3 linked regions of the Homo sapiens genome follow. The protein of the gene in region 1 interacts with the protein of each later gene in a biochemical or structural test. Each region holds a gene or a part of one and is shown in the gene's direction. Other genes may lie near its edges.

Evidence for each region. Proteins that work in one complex are often made in the same cells at the same time.
Region 2: the proteins of ATF2 (region 1) and UTF1 form a complex in vitro, tested with the Homo sapiens proteins (one study listed by BioGRID).
Region 3: the proteins of ATF2 (region 1) and THRB form a complex in vitro, tested with the Homo sapiens proteins (one study listed by BioGRID and IntAct).

Annotation. Positions count from the first base shown.
Region 1 is NC_000002.12:175,109,188-175,116,214, reverse strand, and holds part of ATF2 (cyclic AMP-dependent transcription factor ATF-2), read left to right. Parts: intron 1-1,346; coding exon 1,347-1,525; coding exon of another isoform or gene 1,526-1,529; exon of another isoform or gene 1,530-1,972; intron 1,973-2,106; coding exon 2,107-2,221; intron 2,222-4,560; coding exon 4,561-4,647; intron 4,648-7,027. UniProt on the Homo sapiens protein: Transcriptional activator which regulates the transcription of various genes, including those involved in anti-apoptosis, cell growth, and DNA damage response.
Region 2 is NC_000010.11:133,226,183-133,232,069, forward strand, and holds UTF1 (undifferentiated embryonic cell transcription factor 1), read left to right. Parts: upstream 1-4,034; 5' UTR 4,035-4,106; coding exon 4,107-4,656; intron 4,657-4,784; coding exon 4,785-5,260; 3' UTR 5,261-5,376; downstream 5,377-5,887.
Region 3 is NC_000003.12:24,141,840-24,148,866, reverse strand, and holds part of THRB (thyroid hormone receptor beta), read left to right. Parts: intron 1-2,044; coding exon 2,045-2,192; intron 2,193-5,160; coding exon 5,161-5,366; intron 5,367-7,027.

The DNA of each region.
Region 1 (7,027 bases):
AACTTGTCTTCCTGCTTCTACCTCCAATCCATTTTCTGTAAGATGACTTTTAATACATTAAATATGTCACCTGCTTAAAATCTTTCAATGGTCTACCATTGTATTTAAAATAATTCACACTCCTTGGCATAAGCCCTCTTTGATCTGGGCCTGTCTACGCATCTATCCTTACCTCATGCCTCTCTATTGTGTTCATCAAATATTCAAAGCTTTTTCCTACCTCAGGACATGACATATATGGTATTGCTTCCTTCTCCCTACAATGAAATGCTCTCCTCCTCATCCTTTTATCATCAGTTCGAATGCTGTTTTTGCAAAGAAGCTCACCTATTCTTACTATGCTGTCTAAATTAACTGACTCTTCCTTACCTTCAGCTAATCTTTCATCCTTTGTTACATTGCACGTATTATTCTGTAACACTTAACATTTACTACAATCTGAAATTTTCTTACTTGTTTTACTTGTTTATTGTCTCTTCCTTGAGAGCTAGTCCTTGGGAGCATAAGTTCTCAACTTACTGAATAAATGAAGTTACAATACTACTACTTTATCCTTCTTCCTATGTAGCTTAATAAGATTTTGATGATAAGTGGCAGCATACAGGCCAATTCATAAAACACCATAGACCCAATTTTTACACTGACTATTTAAGGAGTTCTGGGTAAAATCTTTTAAAACTTTTTGTTCTATAATTTGTAAAACCAGAGGAAATACCATCTTTAAGGTCTTGGCTGACAAATTCTGTTTTCCTGACTTGAAAGAGTTCACTCCGGTAATTATTTATTTTACATTCAAGATATCAGTATTACGTGGCCTTTTGATATGAAGAAATTATTGATATAGAAGAGGTAGCTAACTGGAATTAACAATTATTTGTATTGCTCTAAAAGTTCTTATTTCTGTTACTTAATTGTATCAGCCATAACACAGTCTCACTGGACCTGTTTCCTCTTCATACAGTATAATGAGGGAGGGGGACTAAACAGTCCCTTCTGGATTTTAAGTTCTGTGATTCTCTGAGAATGGATTATATTTTTATTTTTTATTAAAATTCTCTTGGTATCATAGCCAAGTTGCCCAGTCTAACTTATTTCTGGATTGATAGGAGAACAAGTTGTACTGGAAAAAAAAAAAACGAGTCTTTTTAAAATTAAAATATTAATTGAACATTGCATTTGAATCTTTACAGCTCTTCTAAAATGTTCTTTTAATTAATTTGAGATATTAATTTGCTTTTAGCAGTTATTATTCTGTAGATGCTTTTAGAAGTGTGTTACATTCTGTTCACTAAGGTACATGATTTGTATTTTTAAATGCCACCCTTTTTTATCTCATTGTTAAATAGGAAGTACCATTGGCACAAACTGCACAGCCCACATCAGCTATTGTTCGTCCAGCATCATTACAGGTTCCCAATGTGCTGCTTACAAGTTCTGACTCAAGTGTAATTATTCAGCAGGCAGTACCTTCACCAACCTCAAGTACTGTAATCACCCAGGCACCATCCTCTAACAGGCCAATTGTGTAAGTGATTCAGGCCAATCATTGAACATATACATGAATTAAGTTTGTTTTGTAATGATTTTTCCTAAGACATTTGATTATTCAAACTAAGATCTTAGTTTTGTATGTGTGTGCATGCTTCGAATTTTGGAAAAAGTACTTGCGTAGTCTTCTTTAATATAAATATTAACTAACAGAGTGGGAGATAAATACAACTAAAAACAAATATAGAATGTGAATTTAAGATAGTCTTATTTTCATGCTATTTCACACAAAATATAAAATTACTGCATCACCAGATTCCATTTCTTTCAGTTCTTACTGGTAGCTCCCAAGAGCTCTCTGATGACAGTTTTTCTCATTTTACAAATTGGAGATTGTCCTAAGTAAATCCATAACTTTTCTCTTCTTTTCAATACTGCTACACAGGTTATGCATTTAAGATGCAATTAAAAATAATTAAATTTTGCTATTTGCTTTGCTGTGGTTAGAAAATGTATTTTTAAATGATATGATTATAGGAGTAAAAATACTATTGTATTTTTAAGAGACAGTTGGTATGAATCTCTTTTTTAAAATTTCTCTTCTTTTGTTTTTCTTAGCCCTGTACCAGGCCCATTTCCTCTTCTGTTACATCTTCCTAATGGACAAACCATGCCTGTTGCTATTCCTGCATCAATTACAAGTTCTAATGTGCATGTTCCAGCTGCAGTCCCAGTAAGAAAGTTAGACTATTTAAATCTCTATCGCAAAACTGATCTTTGTAGTCAGAAAATAAAGTTGGCTGCTTGACTGGCTTATGAAATTGAATTTAACATAATATTGATTAGCAGTTGATAGTATTTATTTGTTATCATTGTAATAGCATATACCATTCAAGGTATAGCTATTTTTTCTCTTCTCCCCAAAACCTTAATTTTTTTTTTATACTGAGATCTTCTTATTCAACCCATATCAATTTGACTGGACTTGTAGCATTCAAATATTAACACAGATTTCAAATTTTAGAAAGATATTTGTACTAGAATACTTGTCAGGTAACTCTGTGGTATTTCTATTAGTATGGAAATTGTTTATAAAGACACACTCTGAATTTTTGTGGTCAAGTAGGGTTTGTAGAATCTTTGATAGCCCAGCATGTTAAAATGTAAATGTTCTAGAAAAATAATCTTTCACTTTCCCTGTGAAAAGACCCCGCAAAAAAGTTTTTTGAGGGGTGTGTTAAATATATAAATTTTGAAAGACGTAGACAAAATAGTTAACTATCTACTTATGATATTTAATAGTTTGGCCAGGCATGGCAACTCATGCCTGTTGTAATCCCAGCGTATTGGGCGGCTGAGGTAGGAGGATTGTGTGAGCCCAGGCGTTTGAGACTGCAGTGAGCTATGGATCCTGCCTGGATGACAGGGCAAGACCCCAAGTCAAAAAAAAAAAAAAAGTAATAGTTTAATGAACATTTAAAAACACATTGTTTGGAATAATGTGTGTTAGAAAATTGCTTTTTTCTTACTTACATTACATAAAACAGTTTTATTCAAACAAACTCTTCAGTTATGTCTTTGACATTCAAATTTTCATCCTGAGAACCACTTTTTGAGACATCTAGCACAGTTTCCAGAACACAGTATTTTCTTTTTCATCTAAATCATTTACGATATTACTTTATGAATCTCTCTATTATTCTCTCCCTGGAAATCTTACACCAAGCATTAGGTACTTATTTATGTAATAAAAAGATAGTTTTTTCTTTTACCTTCTAAGATGCTTGTTACTGATCAGTACAGTGTAATCATTTACAGTGTAGCTTTTAAAAATTATTTTTAGGCCAAGTGCAGTGGCTCATGCCTGTAATCCCAGCACTTTGGGAGACCAGGGTGGGTGGCTTGCCTAAGTCCAGGAGTTCAAGACCAGGCTGGGCAACATGGCAAAACCCCATCTCTACAAAAAATAAACACAAATTAGCCAGTTGTGATGGAAGCACCTGTAGTCTCAGCTACTCAGAAGGCTGAGGTGGGAGGATCACTTGAGCCTGGAGGTTGAGACTGTAGTTAGCCGAGATTGCACCACTGCATTCCAGGCTGGGCAACAAAGTAAGACCTTGTCTCAAAAATAATAAAAAATAAAACTTATTTTTAAAAGCTTACTTATAGTAACATTCCAACACTTTCGGTGAGATTACCCCCAAGAATATTACTAGGATTAATGTTTGATATTTATATCTTTTTTTAATTAACTAATTCTTCCACGTGATCTTTCAAACTATCCAAAATTAGCATTGATTGACGTAATTTCAAGATAATGTGCCTTCTTTAAAAAGAACTTTGTTCAAAATGCATTATTTGAGAGACTTTGTAAGGACTCAGATATAAGGTATCTGCTTCCTCTTTACTGAGAATATTTTTTTGAGGAGGGAAACATTCTTGCCTTGTTTTTGAGATTCTGATTATCCTGTTACATGTACCTAGTGATGAAAGCAACCGGAAATGAAAGAAAAGATATGCTTTATTTATACAGTAACTGTGTTCACTCAGTGTTAGGTTTAAGAAAAAAAAGGAAAAAACCAAAATGGTAAAACCTGTTACAGATTATTTCAGAAATTATTACAGTGTGTTATTTGTTATTATGTGGTATGTATAAGAAAATTCATTGTATATATTTTTAGAAAAGCAAAATTCATTGTTGAAATTATTTTTTATGCCTAAGTGTCACAAGTTTTGACATTCTTCCTTTCATATTCAAAATGGAAGTTTGACAGATCTTTGAGAATTTTTGCATTAATCACTTTGAATATTATGAATTTCTAACAGGGACCATTAAGAAAGAAATTGTAGAAACTGAAAATTAGGAAAGCACACGTCTCAGAAATTGACAACTTTTGAAGGATAAGTCAGGATATAAGACCAAATAAGGATTTGGTATAGAGATAAAATCAGCTGGTGATAAATTTACAATGTTCTGATTCTTAAAGTCTCAAATTATTACAACAGCAGTAAAGTACAAATCTCATTTTGAATATATTCTCTAGCAATTATTTTTCCTTATGTCATGCATAGCTCGTTCGACCAGTCACCATGGTGCCTAGTGTTCCAGGAATCCCAGGTCCTTCCTCTCCCCAACCAGTACAGTCAGAAGCAAAAATGGTAAGCCAGATTTTATTTGTTCTGTACATTGCTTGAGGCTGTTTTGAATTAATGTTTTCACTAAAGCCTGCTTCAAATGCACAATTTAGATCACATTTTTATAAAGTTACGGACTGTTTTATACTATAGATAAACCACAAAATTTGAAAAAAGAAATCTTCCTTTAGCATAGTGAGTAGTTAGTGATACTTTAAAATTAGTGGCAGATTAGAAGTTCTGTTTCTTGTCACTTGTTGTTTGTCTGGCTTTTTCTTGTGGCTTTTTCTCCTCCTAGTGGAAAATAGGAGTATTACATCTGAAACTAGATGTGATCATCTGAAGGCAGTGCTGCTAATAATGATGAGTGGTTTTAACAGTATTAAAAAGAATTCTGAAATAGTGTACAAGTTAGCAAACATGATAAAACCATTTTTTTCTGTTGTGCTGTTTGGATGCTATTAAATTAATGTTTAGATGTGTATTTTAATTTTAATTTTAATCCTAACTCCACTATTCACTACCTTTAATTAAGCAACTGTAACTTTCCTGAGATTGCATTTCCTCATCTGTAAAATAAAAAGATTAAGCTTTGGTTTCTGGGGTACTTCTTAACCCTAAATCCTATAAACGTTCTAATTTTCTTAGTAGAAGATCTGACGATTCTATTTTTAAAGAAAATCAGGGCCGGGCGCAGTGGCTCACACCTGTAATCCCAAGCACTTTGGGAGGCTGAGGTGAGCAGATCACCTAAGGTCAGGAGTTCGAGAGCAACCTGGCCAACATGGTGAAACCCCATCTCTACTAAAAATACAAAAATTAGCCGAGCGTGGTGGTGCATGCCTGTAATCCTAGCTACTCGGGTGGCTGAGGCACAAGAATTTGCTTGAACCCGGGAGGCCGAGGTTGCAGTGAGCCAGCATCGCACTATTGCACTCCAGCCTGGGTGACAGAGTGAAACTCCATCTCAAAAATAAAATAAAATAAAATAAAAATCAGTGTAATTCTCCTTGCTGTGTTATAATACAATAATGTCAGTTAATTAATAACATCGATTAATTGGGTAGATGTTAACGTTCTATATCATAATAGGGCTAACAACAGCAATTAATTAATGTATCCTTAGGAAATCAATAGATTAGTAGTTATTAGACACCTTCTATTTGCTTCAGTTATTTGCTAGGCACTATACTAAATACAAATTTTTACATGCTAAAACATATTGCAGAGCTGAATTTATTTATTTATTTATTTTTTGAGATGGAGTCTCGCTCTCTCACCCAGGCTGGAGTACAGTGGCACAATCTCAGCTCACTGCAACCTCCGCCTCCTGGGTTCAAGCAATTCTCCTGCCTCAGCCTCCTGAGTAGCTGGGATTACAGGTGTGCACCACCATGCCTGGCTAATTTTTGTATTTTTAGTAGAGACGGGTTTTCACCATGTTGGTCAGACTGGTCTCGAACTCCTGACCTCGTGATCCCCCCTCCCCAGCCTCCCAAAGTGTTGGGATTACAGGCGTGAGCCACCACACCCGGCCTGAAAAATTTTTACTGCTATTCTCCATTAGTGCAGACAATCAGTCAGAAATTTGCACAGGACACCCTGTTTTAGCAATAAAACTTACATATTATCTGAATGAACAGCAGTTGGTTGAAGAGTATAAAAATTAGGTGGTTATTGATTGTTAGAGAAGACCCTAAAAACCCAAGGAGGAAATTTTTCACATCATAGTATGTTCAGGTCAGAGCTTTGGAAATACTAAGATGAATCTTCTTCACTTGATAGCAGAAGAGCTTCACCAGGGGCATTTTTTGCACTTCCTATTTTAGTATACTGATTGATGAAAAATTCAATTTAATTTACCATGCAGTGGGAACTGAATAGAGCAGATATAGATATTAAAAGGAGATCCTGTTATTGTGTACTGCATCTAAAAGTATTTTTACATATTCATTGGACTTTTTTCTATAAATTAATTCAAAAGGAACAAATCCAGTTTTAAGAAATACCTTTATTTACAAGAGTAGGCCATATTTTTAGAAACTGTTAAACTTTACACTTAACCTGAATAACTGTTTCTTTTAGGTCATCAGGAAATTAAATTAAAAAGAATAAAAGTTTCTCTCTTTCCGATCAGTCCACTCCATCTATTCTGATGTTTGTAACCATAGATTAGTTATAGAATTTCATATAAATAGCCACTTTATACTCTTATGTCCAGCTCAGCATGTCTCAGATTTATCCATGTTGTTGAGTGATCACAGTTTGCTTCTTTTTATTGCTGAGTGGTATTCCATTGTGTGAATATACCACAATTTCTTTGTCCATTCTCCTGCTCATGGACACTTTAATGGTTTCTAGTGTTTAGCTATTGTGAATAAAGCTACCATACACAGTCTTTTTT
Region 2 (5,887 bases), on another chromosome or scaffold:
GGCCACGAAATGCAGTTCACTTTTTTTTAGGCTTTTATATGGATTATGTTTTGCTGACCCACGCCCGCATTTTCAGATTTTGTATCTAACAGACAGTGCTCAGTGCAAATCAACATTCCAGCGGTCAGGACTGACCCCGGGGCAGCACTGGGCTCAGGCTTCAGCGCGACTGTCCGCATGGCTCCCTCCCGTCCTGGCACCAATTTCTGAATAAAGTCCTTTCTACCAGCTGCTGCTGTGTGGTCACTCTGCGGGTCCCCACGGTGACCTCTGCAGGTCGACACGTTTTCCTTCATGGCCGCACGAAGGCCCCTTACAGGTGCTCACAAGGACTCCAGGTGCGAGATGTGCTCAACCCAGGACTGAAAACGAATCTGCCGGTCCACAGCGACGCCCTCTGATGCCGCAGAGAAAGGCCCGGGCCTGCCAGACGTGTGTCACAACTCAGGCCCCGCCAGGAGGAAAGCTACCGCCAGCACTCCCAGGCCGTGGGAACAAGCAAACGCACCGGCTGGGGCAGGAAACACTTGCTTCTGGTTGTGACTGCAAACAGCCTAAAAGAACGGACTCCCGTAACCACGCTCCTGTGTGCGCACATCCAGGCTCGCCCTCCATTGACAAAAAGGACGTCCCTCATGCTGGATGTGCAGTGTCTTCATCCAAGATCAGGACGGGCGTCTGTCCATCAGTTCTTACAGGCTATTTGCACAGACCCACGGCTGTTCTTGGGTCAATCTGCGCTAAACTCTGCCCAACCCAGCCAGTTCCCACCTGGCAGCCCTGTGGGCAAGACAGAGCTGGGTCCCCCGTCATCACGGTGCAAGCTCGCCGTAACTCTGACCACAGTGGAGCAGGAGGCCAGGACGGGGAGCTCCTGCAGGTGGGGCTTGTGGCCCGGGAAAGGACACTCTCACGGTTGTCACAGGGTAAGACTGGTGGACACCACTCAGGGAGGGGCTCACAGCCAGGGCTTCCAATGGTTTTGGGGTTGTAAACTGTGGATGCTTTTGGGAAAAGAGCTGATGGGTCTTTCGGGAAGTTCCCGTGATGAACGGTGCGGTTATCCGCCTGGAGGGAGGCCCAGGAGAAGCCGAGAAGACAAGATGGTGGAGTCCAATTGTGCTGGACAGGAGCTGCCCGAGACAGGGGGCCCTGGTCCTGGTCATGTGTGCGTCCTCGCCCCCACGCCATGCAGGCCGGACCCCTCACTGCAGTGGCTCCAATAAATTCAGCTCCGCTGAGCACAGGACTTTTCTCTTAGAGAGCTGACAGCCAGCAACCTCATGAGCCTCGCTTCTCGGCGCCATCCACTCCCCGGCTCTGTCCCCCACGCCGCCATCCACTCCCCGGCTCTGTCCCCCACGCCGCCATCCACTCCCCGGCTCTGTCCCCCACGCCGCCATCCACTCCCCGGCTCTGTCCCAGACGGGTTCAAGGCAGGCTGTGCTGTGCACTGCAGTGCCACTGTGGGCTAGACAGTCTGCGCTGGCGTCCTGTGCACCATCATCTCTGATCTCCACCCATCAGATGCCCCCAGCACCCCCAACCCTCAGTTATTAAAAATCTTTTTTTTTTTTTTGAGACAGAGTCTCACTCCGTCACCTAGGCTGGAATGCAGTGGTGCGATCTTGGCTCACTGCAACCTCCACCTCTTGGGTTCAAGCGATTCTCCTGCCTCAGCCTCCTGAGTAGCTGGGACTACAGACACATGCCACGACACCCAGCTAATTTTTTGTATTTTTAGTAGAGACGGGTTTCACTGTGTTAGCCAGGATGGTCTCAATCTCCTGACCTCGTGATCCGCCCGCCTCGGCCCCCCAAAGTGCTGGGTGTCAACAGGCTTGAGCCACGCGCCCAGCCTTTTTTTTTTTTTTAGATCCACCTCCCAGGTTCAAGCAATTCTCCTGCCTCAGCCTCCCTAGAAGCTGGGATTACAGGTGCACATCCAACGCCTCGCTAATTTTTGTATTTTTAGTAGAGATGGGGTTTCACCATGTTGGCCAGGCTGGTCTCAGACTCCTGACCTCAGGTGATCCGCCTGCCTCAGCCTCCCAAAGTGCTGGGATTACAGCCACCACGCCTGCACGCCCCCCTTTTCTTTTTAAGACAGAGTCTTGCCCTGTCACCCAGGCAGGAGTGCAGTCAGGTCATCACGGTACACTGCAGGCTTAACCTCCTGAGCAAAAGGACATCCTCCCGCCTCAGCCTCCCAAGTAGCTGGAACTACAGGCACCTGCTACTACACTCGGCTATTTTTTATTTTTTTGCAGAGATGGGGGTCTCACTATATTGCCCAGGTCAGTCTCAAACTCCTGGCCTCAGGAGATCTGCCCACCTCAGCCTCCCAAAGTGCTAGGAATACAGGTGTGAGCCCCGTGTATGAGTGCCTGGCCAGGAACCACAGATTTCTTGAGAAGTGTCTGAAAAGCTGATTCTAGGACCAGGGTCGGCAAAGGACCAGATGAGGCAGGAGCATCCTGTATTGCCAGGGAGCTGGGAGGGGGTTTCAAAAGGACAAGGAAGAGAGGAGGAGGTGAGAAGACTTTCAATGGCCAAAGCAGGAACGATATGCGCAAAAATACAAATAAAAGCCCGGCACAGGGGCTCACTCCTGTAATCTCAGCACATTGGGAGGCCCAGGCAGGAGGATCACTTGAGCCCAGGAGTTCAAGACGAGCCTAGGCAACATAGCAAGACCCTGTCCCTACAAAAAGTAAAAAAAAAAAAAAAAAACTAGGTGCGTGTGGTGGTGCACACATGTAGTCCCAGCTACCAAGGAAGCTGAGGCTGGAGGATCACTTGGGCCCAAGAGTTCAAGGCTACAGTGAGCTGTGATCAGGCCACTGCACTCCAGCCTGAGTGACAGAAAGAGACCCCATTTGTAAAAAATAATAAAAACAAACAGAACTTTTAAAACAAATAAATAATAACAGCATCGGGTTATGACCTAAAGGATAAAATAAATATACACGAGCCCACACTGTAGAAATAAATGACTGAGTAAATAAATCAACAGGCAGAGAGACAAACCTTACAGAAGAATCCCAGAAAATACAGACACCCCTCCAGGAGGTGGGGCCTAATTACTCTCCCCATGAGTTGGGGATGGGCTGAGGGGCCGGATTCCAGTGACCAGAGCAGGGATGGAAAGGCGATACCTGAAGACTGCAAGAGTGGCAGACAGTCCGCACCCCAGCACGGAGCAGACCTCACCGGTGCTGAGCCACAAGACAGGAGGGGCGAGACTCCACCCCTGCGCCTTCCTTCCTAAAACCCACCACCCTAGTCGGATCACAGGAAGACACCAGGCAAACCCAAGTCGAGGAACATTCAACAAAACACCTGGCCCGTCCTCAACCGTGTCGAGGACGCGAGAAGCTGCCACGGCCCAGAGGAGACCCAGGAGACAGAAGGACTCGGCGCCGTGCGGCAAGGAGGAAGAGCATTTAATAGGAAGAGAATTTCCTCCTCCCAGGGATGCTGGCTGCAGACGCGCTGCAGATGGAAGAAGTTCAGATTTTAAAAGCTACTTCTGCGAGCGCGTGAATTCCGACACCCATTCCCGCGGCTGGCGTGGCTTCTCCTCGGACCCATCCCCTGGCCTGGCGACTCCCCCTGGGACCCGGGTCGGTCCTCCGGACCCCTCGCGTGCAGGTGCTGAGCCCGGGCGGGGGCGGCGGGGGCGGGGGCAGCACTGGGGGCCGGACAAGGGGGCGCCAGCGCCTTCCGGAGCGGGAGGGGCTCCGCACACACCTCGACGGGGGCGGGGGTAGGCTCGGCACAGGCTAAAAACGAGCGGAGCCGCCGGGGCTTAGGCATCGCGGCACCTCCGTTGAACGGGTCTAAGAACAGAACTCCTGAGGACCCTCCGTTTCCAACCGAAGCCAGTCTTTGCTCTGCGTCTTCCCGGCCGCAGCGCCAGGACCGACCCCTTAGGACCCGGCGGGCGGGGCGGGGCGCGCGGGGCGGGGCGGGGATGGTGGGAGGGTCGCGTAGACCCGGCTGGGACGGAGGGACGGCGGCGCGGGATGCTCAGAACGCGTGTGGGCGGCCCGGGCGGCGTCTGGCCCTCTCCCCATCCTCGCGCGCCGCGCCCCAGCCCCGGGATGCTGCTCCGGCCCCGCAGGCCGCCCCCGCTCGCGCCCCCCGCGCCGCCCTCGCCCGCCAGCCCCGACCCCGAGCCGCGGACACCCGGAGACGCCCCGGGGACCCCGCCCCGGAGGCCCGCCTCGCCCAGCGCGCTGGGGGAACTCGGGTTGCCGGTGTCCCCGGGCTCGGCGCAGCGCACGCCCTGGAGCGCCCGGGAGACGGAGCTGCTGCTGGGGACGCTGCTGCAACCGGCCGTGTGGCGCGCGCTGCTCCTGGACCGCCGCCAGGCCCTGCCCACCTACCGCCGCGTGTCGGCCGCGCTGGCCCAGCAGCAGGTGCGCCGCACCCCCGCGCAGTGCCGCCGCCGCTACAAGTTCCTTAAAGACAAGTTTCGCGAGGCGCACGGCCAGCCGCCCGGGCCCTTCGACGAGCAGATCCGGAAGCTCATGGGGCTGCTGGGCGACAACGGGCGCAAACGGCCTCGCCGCCGCTCCCCGGGGTCCGGGCGCCCCCAGCGCGCCCGCCGCCCGGTCCCCAACGCGCACGCGCCGGCTCCCAGCGAACCAGGTAGGCGGGGGACTGGGGGGCCAGGTGGGGCCGAGGACTGCGGAGGAACCGGGGGCTGCCGAGGGCTGCGGGGGAGGGGCGGGCGCGCCCCGCGAAAATCCGCCCGACCGCCTGCTCCGCGTTCCCAGACGCCACCCCGCTGCCCACCGCCCGCGACCGCGACGCGGACCCCACCTGGACGCTCCGCTTCAGCCCGTCCCCACCGAAGTCTGCGGACGCCTCCCCCGCCCCCGGCTCCCCGCCAGCTCCCGCCCCGACCGCCCTCGCCACCTGCATCCCCGAGGACCGCGCGCCCGTCCGCGGCCCCGGGTCCCCGCCGCCACCCCCGGCCCGCGAAGACCCCGACTCGCCGCCCGGCCGCCCCGAGGACTGCGCGCCCCCTCCGGCCGCGCCCCCGTCGCTGAACACCGCCCTGCTGCAGACCCTGGGGCACCTGGGCGACATCGCGAACATCCTGGGCCCGCTGCGCGACCAGCTGCTGACCTTGAACCAGCACGTGGAGCAGCTGCGCGGCGCCTTCGACCAGACAGTGTCCCTGGCCGTGGGCTTCATTCTGGGCAGCGCGGCCGCCGAGCGAGGGGTCCTCAGGGACCCGTGCCAGTGAGTCCCGGCTGCGGCCAGTCTCCCCTCTCCAGGCCGAGGCCCCTCCGCCCTGACCCCTCCTGCTGCCTTCCCACCCCCGTTCTTGGGTATGTTCAATAAAAGGATTGTTTTCCTAGAGTCCGGGCTGTGTAGGAGTGCGGGTCTGGAGACGGGGAGGGAGTGGCGCCCTGCAGTGCTGGGGCTGCAAAGGTCAGGGCAGGGTTGCGACGCTCTCATCACAGAGAGGGGCTCCCACTCGCTCCTAAGGTGTAGACAGAGCTCCGTGGGGCGCACCCAAATGTAGGCCGAGGAGGCCAGGCTCGAGGGTGGTGGGCGTGGTGCCTGCTGCCGGGTCCTGGTCACACACTCGGTTCTCAAGGCCACACCAGACTCTCCCTGCCCCTCCCGGGGAGCCCCACTGAGTAAAACGAAGTGAACGGGTGGGCTCCGCTGGGGGTCCGGAGAGAACCTGAGGCTGACCCCACCTCTTCACTCAATGCAGGGGTAGGGGTTAGAGTGGTCGCCTCCACACTGCCCAGCAGAGAACCCCCTTTGACCCAGGAGTAGCATGGGGGGTTCCGAAGGTCCTCCCATGGCCTCGGGCAGCCTTGGACCACCCGGCTGAACTCTCCCAGGTCCTGGGAAACAA
Region 3 (7,027 bases), on another chromosome or scaffold:
ATTTGCATATACGCCCCAAAATCAAGTCTGTTAGTCTCAGTTATTCCTGATGTTTTTCTATTTTATTCTGCTTTGCCCAATATAAAATCCTACCTCGGGCATTTTCATAATAAGAAAGAGCTTTTGTGTCTGAAGGAGGAATATGCAATAGGGTATACGTATATAATCAAAGCCAAAGAACATTAACCGGGATCATAAAAATTTGGGCTGAATCTAGATCAACTGATATTTCCCACCATTTATCTAGCAAAGTTAGAGGACCCCTTTAGGCCTTAGCAGAAGACATCCATCAAAACTTGTTTTGCCACCAGGAACAGTGGCTCATGCCTGTAATCCCAGCACTTTGGGAGGCGGAGGCAGACGGATCACTTGAGGCCAGGTGTTGGAGACCAGCCTGGCCAATATGGCAAAAACGCATCTCTACTAAAAATACAAAAATTAGCCAGGCGTGGTGGCTCACGCCTATAATCCCAGCACTTTGGGAGGCCAAGGAGGACGGATCACTGAAGGCCAGGAGTTCGAGACCAGCCTGGCCAACATGGCAAAACCCCGTCTCTACTAAAAATACAAAAATTAGCCAGGTGTGGTAGCACACGCCTGTAATCCCAGCTACTCTGGATGCTAAGATATGAGAATCACTTGCACCCTGGAGGTGGAGGTTGTAGTGAGCCAAGATCGCACCACTGCACCCCAGCCTAGGTGACAGAGCGAGACTCTGTCTCAAAAAAAATTTTTTTTAATTTCTTACATTTTAAAACACTCATTTTGCCTTGTTATCCTACCAACAGTTAAAATGAACTTTTTAAGTGGCTGGGGCAGGACTGTTTATAATCTGTTGATCTAAAACATTCAAGTAATACAGTAAAATTTACTTCATTATACATCATATAAGCAGTTAAGCAAGTAAGATGTGGAGTGCCGCTCCTGGGTTGCAAGGGAGGTGGGGGTCATTGCTGGGTGGTTTCCATCCTACCTGAAGTTCCCACATGTACTTACCATGTGATTTGGGCAAGCGATTTAACCTGTCTGAGGTTTACTTTTTTAATCCCTACCATGGAAATATTTAGAGCACCTCCTTTACATGATTGTAGGGAAGATAGAAGGATATTGAATGTTTCTACAGCACTTAGCAATGTGCCCTCACAATAAGTGCTCACTGCTGTTATTAACTTCTACAATACAGATGACAGTTGCCTCAACTTGAGGATCACGTCCAGAAAAATTCTAGTATTGCACATTCTTGAGAATATTACCTAAGTCACCCAAACCTAGAACTAAACAGTGTCCCCAGATGCTACAGAGGTGCTCTCTCATGCCTTAAGAAAGGAAGAATCATTGAACCTGTAGGTGTATGTCTACAGATACCAAAGAAAGAGTGTTATAAAAGGAAAACCTCAATGCAATGAGCTATGGGGAAAAACTTGGTAGAAAACCTGGAGCGTTCTACTCCCTGAGTCCTATTGTTTGAAAGGCTAAGTGAGCTGATCATGGCTGTCTCAAGATTCAAAAACAAGTATTAAACTAAATCCAGGAAGCCAGCTAGTACATCTGTTTAATTACTAAATTATTAGATTTTTAATTAATAAAGTATTGCAAGTATCCATGTCTTTTCATTTTTTTCACTTTCTTCTTGGTCTTGGAGCTCTCTTATTACTCAGTATAAAGTAGCAAAACTCCTCATAGCTTAATTTAGCAACACAATTATGTCAGTATATGAAATAGAACAGTATAATTTACTTATATATTCAATATTTAGAAAAAATAAAAACAAGCGCTAGATGTTCCTACTAGCCTCTTTTCCTTGAATAAAGACCAAAAAAAAAGGTGTTGACTCTGTAGTCCTATGGCATCATCAGCTCAGATTTAGAACTCTCTAGATCCTTCTGGGCCAACTGTCTTATATTTGAATATGTGGAGCTAGAGGCCTAGAAACAGGTTAAGGTCCAAAACGATTCATCTCATAGTTATATGGACACAAAATTCCAGAATCACTGATTTCAAGAAAATATGAAACTGTTGTCTTGGGTCTTTGTTTTTCATATAGGGTTTCTTTAGAAGAACCATTCAGAAAAATCTCCATCCATCCTATTCCTGTAAATATGAAGGAAAATGTGTCATAGACAAAGTCACGCGAAATCAGTGCCAGGAATGTCGCTTTAAGAAATGCATCTATGTTGGCATGGCAACAGATTGTAAGTAGATCTTCACTTGCTTCATATTCAAGGAATGTTGATTAGGAAACAGTTTGGTTCAAGGAGATCGACTGGGCAGAAAAGAAGGCAGGAACCCAAGAAGACAGAGAAGGGAATACCTTACTTTCGCATACACCCCTCACTCCCCACATCCAGGCTTGCCCTGAAAGGGAGGTGGGAGCCATTGCTGGGTGGGTTCCATCCTACCCTGTCATACCACCTCCTAACTGTCAAAGTATGGATGATGGAGGAGGAAATGCAGTTAAATTATCCCTATCACATTTGCAGGCCTAGTTGTTAGCAACACTCTGTTTGAGACAGAGATTACAAATGAGAGGTCTGGTCCATTTACCTTGATAAGGTATCATTCTATACACAGTGTTCACATGGGGTAGAGCCTCAGGGACTAGTCCTAATATTTTTTCAAGAGCAAAGACAGGAATTTATTTTATGGACATTTTTGGAGATGGGGCGCTGGCAGAAAACATCGTGTTCAGAAATTTCTGAAGAATGCAAAGTTGAGTGCTATTGCATGAGTCATCCTGCAGTTGGTTGTTTGTTATATTTTTAGCAATAAAGACATTCCGAGCTGAAGTCGTCCTACCCAGTTTTCAAAGTGCTACAGCATATGGTGGCGAGATTAGCCCTTGGGGTCTCTTCTCCCCACACTGTGCGAGGGATTTACACCAGTCACTTTAATTAATCTAATCATAAAAATAAGAATCATGTCATTCAGAATGTGTGGCCTCCCTTTTGCCAGGCATCAGTATTAATGATTCTACTGGCATAAATTTTTTGCACATCAGTGAGAGATTCCAACTATTAGTTAAAAATTAAAAAGAAAAAGAAAGATAAAAAATGAAGAAAGAAAAAAGAAAATACAGTGAGGATTTTTCCTGATGAAAGAAGTAATCATGACTCACATTTTATGTGAGAAATAGAGTTCTTTCACTGAGAAAAAAAAATCTGTGAAATGTTCTGGTTTGCCCATTAAAGAAGAAGGAATGGAGAATCTTTAAAAAGGAAGAGGGTTATGTTAGAGTGTTAGGCTGGAAATCCTGGGTTAATCCCCACCTCTGGCTGAGTATTTTCTTTATCTTTATCTCTTAAAGGCCTTTAGCCCTTGCCAACAATATGCCTGATAGGGATATGTGAATATGATTGACTTACAGCCAAATACTTAGATATGCCACTATGACAAACTTATTATTGATTATCTATTTCAGTGTTCTATTGAGAAGTTTAAGATACTAGTGTCTATGAGGTTTAAAAACTCAGTGTTAATCTAGACTGTATGGAAATAAATTTTGAGTGCCCTTTACTTGCTTGTGAGGGATTCTAAGAGCTCAGGCTTTCTAATCAGAAAAACTTCTGTTCGAGTCCCAGATCTGTCACTTACTAGCTGTGTGACCTTTGGAATTAAGCTGAGATTTTCCTTCTGTGAAATCATTGCCTACCTTGTAGAGTTGTTTTCAAGATTAAATTAGATAATGTTCATCAAATACAACAGTCCCTGGCACACCGGAAGCATTTGGGAAGGGGTTGAGGGTATTATTACCATTCCTCCTTTCCCTTTAGTAACTGAACCAAAATGACTTAACAGGGCTCATTCATATTTTCCTCATTTGTAAGCGCTCACATGACTTTGACAATCCAATCAAATCTAAATGGTCTGGAATTTAATATTCTCTTTAAATTAGAATATTTAAATGGGAGACTAGCTAGGCACCTTGGTTCTCCTTCTCTTGCTATGTCTGCTTTTTTTCTTTTCCTACCAGGTCACACCTTCATCAAGAAATGGCCCTAGGACAGTGATGTCGTAGAACTGGAGTCAGGAGTCCTGGGTCTTGCCTTGGCTCTGCCATTAACTTGCTCTGTGACTTTAGGCAAGTCACGACCTCTCTGGATCAATTTCTTCTTCTTTCTGTGAAAAGACAGAGTAGGACTAGATGACGTCTAAGTTCCCTTCCAGTTCTAAAATACTATGACTCTGCAATGTAAAACCTGAGCCTTTCCATTCCATTGATAGTTACCAAGTCTAGTGAAACGGTTTTGGTTTTGGAAATTGACCACAGAAATATAGGTTTCTTGTTACCTGCCCTTCTGATTTTCCTTTCACCCAAATGATAGAAGTCAGGACTGCATTTACTGAGCACTTATAATGCATTATCACATTGAATACTCTGTGAAGTGGGTATTATTGAGCCCATTTTGTATAGGAAGAAATGAAAGCTCAGAGAACCTAAGGAACTTGCCAGAGGTCACACAGCTAGAATGTAATAATATCAGAATTCAAACCCAAGTCTTTCTAGATTCCAAAGCCTGGACTCTTTAACCACCCTTGAGGGTGGACCAGGTAGAGAATAATGTACAGTGAGTACCTTGAGGCCCAGGTGAGGCCCAGCCACATTCCAATTAGCCCTTAAGGGAGCCATGAAGAGTTGGGGTCCTTTTTCCTCTTAAAAAAAGGGATCACGAGCCTCCCACTTACTGCTCCATAACGTTTCTTTTTTTAATTCCATAACGTTTCTTTAACCTGAAGTTCTCTTTACTAAGAGCCGTTTTAGGGGAAGCGGGGAGGACAGAAACCCAGAGAGTGAATTCGGATGACTGGCTGGACAGATTTCTCTGTGATCTTGTGGGTAGTATGGATTTTACCTCTCTGCTTCACTCTGTTTTAGAACCACCTTCTGTGGAGTTGGAGTGCGCAGTGTCTAGGTTCTCTGGGGACTTTGTTTTGAAAAGCTGGCCGGTCATGGGGAGTTTGGCTCTAGAGACCATGTTGGACAAGACTAGTCAATGGCAGTTTGCTGGTGAGGAGAGAAACTGTCCCAGTGTGACCCACCCCGAAGGACCCAGTAAGCCATCTGTGCATCAGTGGTCCCACTCCTGAGGCTCCAGGAAGTGCAGCTTGCTGTGTATCTTGGGAGCATCTGTGTGCCTTGTCTCATCTTTCTCCCCCTCCCAGTGGTGCTGGATGACAGCAAGAGGCTGGCCAAGAGGAAGCTGATAGAGGAGAACCGGGAGAAAAGACGGCGGGAAGAGCTGCAGAAGTCCATCGGGCACAAGCCAGAGCCCACAGACGAGGAATGGGAGCTCATCAAAACTGTCACCGAAGCCCATGTGGCGACCAACGCCCAAGGCAGCCACTGGAAGCAAAAACGGAAATTCCTGGTAAGGCTTCCTTGCACAGATCAGTTTCACTTATATGCCAGTGTTTTCTACCTCAATTTATTCAGTCCTCATCACCTTGGGATACTGGTGTTATTGCCTCATTTTACTGATAGGGAAACCGTAGCTCTGAGAGGCTGAGTAACTTGCAAAGCTAGGATTTGAGTCTAGGTCTGTGTGAGAATAAAGGCCACTCCTACCATCTACTTTGTGATTTGCTGAATTCTAAAACAGTTTCTTAGGCCACATTATATCAGTTTGCTTTTACTGTTAGAAAGACCACTCCCAGACCAACTAATTAGTAAAATGTTTTGTCTGCCATCTTTTACTTTCTATACCCATTTCTTTCCTTAGATGCCCAGTATATACATATTTAGTCCCTGAACTCAATCCCAAATATTCCCTTTATAATAGCCTCTAGGCCTCAAGTATATTTTTATGTCAACAGAAGTCAAAATTTTTTAGCTTAAATTAAATGAGCTTGACTCAAGAAGGGCAATGGGAATGAGGGAGTAGGGATAGGGTTGGTGGGCACGAGTGTGTAGAGAAAAAAGACCTTCCAGACCCTTGCAATATTGATGTTTAATATTCTTATAAAAATTACCAGTTGTGAAAATTCTTCCCATTCATTTTTTATTCAGACTTCATAGTGTTTTGAGGTAAGCTGGAATTACTATCCCCATTTTACAGACATGCAAACCAAGCCCAAGGCCTTAAGCCGCTTGCCCAGGATCGCACTGCTAAAAGCCAGGCACCAAAACCAACTCGGTCTTCTGGTTCCAAGTCCAGGCTCTCCACCCACCTCATTAGAAAGACTACGTGCCCTACTAGTGCTGGACCATCTCAGAGACTGACTCTGCTCTTAGTTTATGATATAAAACCCTTTTCAAGTACCTACCTGACAACAGATATTCTGTGGTTTCATTTGTATCCCTAGGACACATTAGAGTACTTCCCCATCTGAACAAGAAGATATAGTGGTATAATTATCCTTGTACCTCAACATTAACATTACAATGAGATAGTGGATCTTTTTCTTAAAACAACATAACAACAACCTTAAAGGAAGTTTTGGAAAGAAAAGGCTTATACATAATTCACCTGTACTGACACAATTACTTTCGTTGTAATGAAACAATAGTGCCAGCACTTTGTTGATGGCTTTCACTAACAGCAATGTCAGCAAATACCTAGATGGCCTTTACCATATGCCAGGTACTATTCTAAGTGCTTTTCATTCATTAACTTCCTATACCAATCCTGTAGGTAGATGTGGTTAATATCTCCATTTTACAGAAGAGAGAAGTAAGACACAGAAGTTGAGGAAACTTGCCTGAGCTCCCACAACTGGTAAACAGTGGTGATGGATGCAGCCAGCTCCGGGATTTATGTCTCTATCCACTACCCTATGCAATCTTGGCACCTGCACAAACCCAAAAAGCCTCTGAAAGATCCCAGCTCTTTGGAGGAGCAGCCTCTCAGTGCCTTGATCTTGCATCTTCACCCCACCCTGGTATATCTGCCAGAAAATTCAAAAGCACTAATTCTGGATTGATAGACAAATTCTAACACAGTACACTTGGGGCATAGCAAGACAGAGTCCTACCTAATTGCAAACTTAAATCCATCCTTTCCCCAAATGTGTCACCCATAAATGGACATTG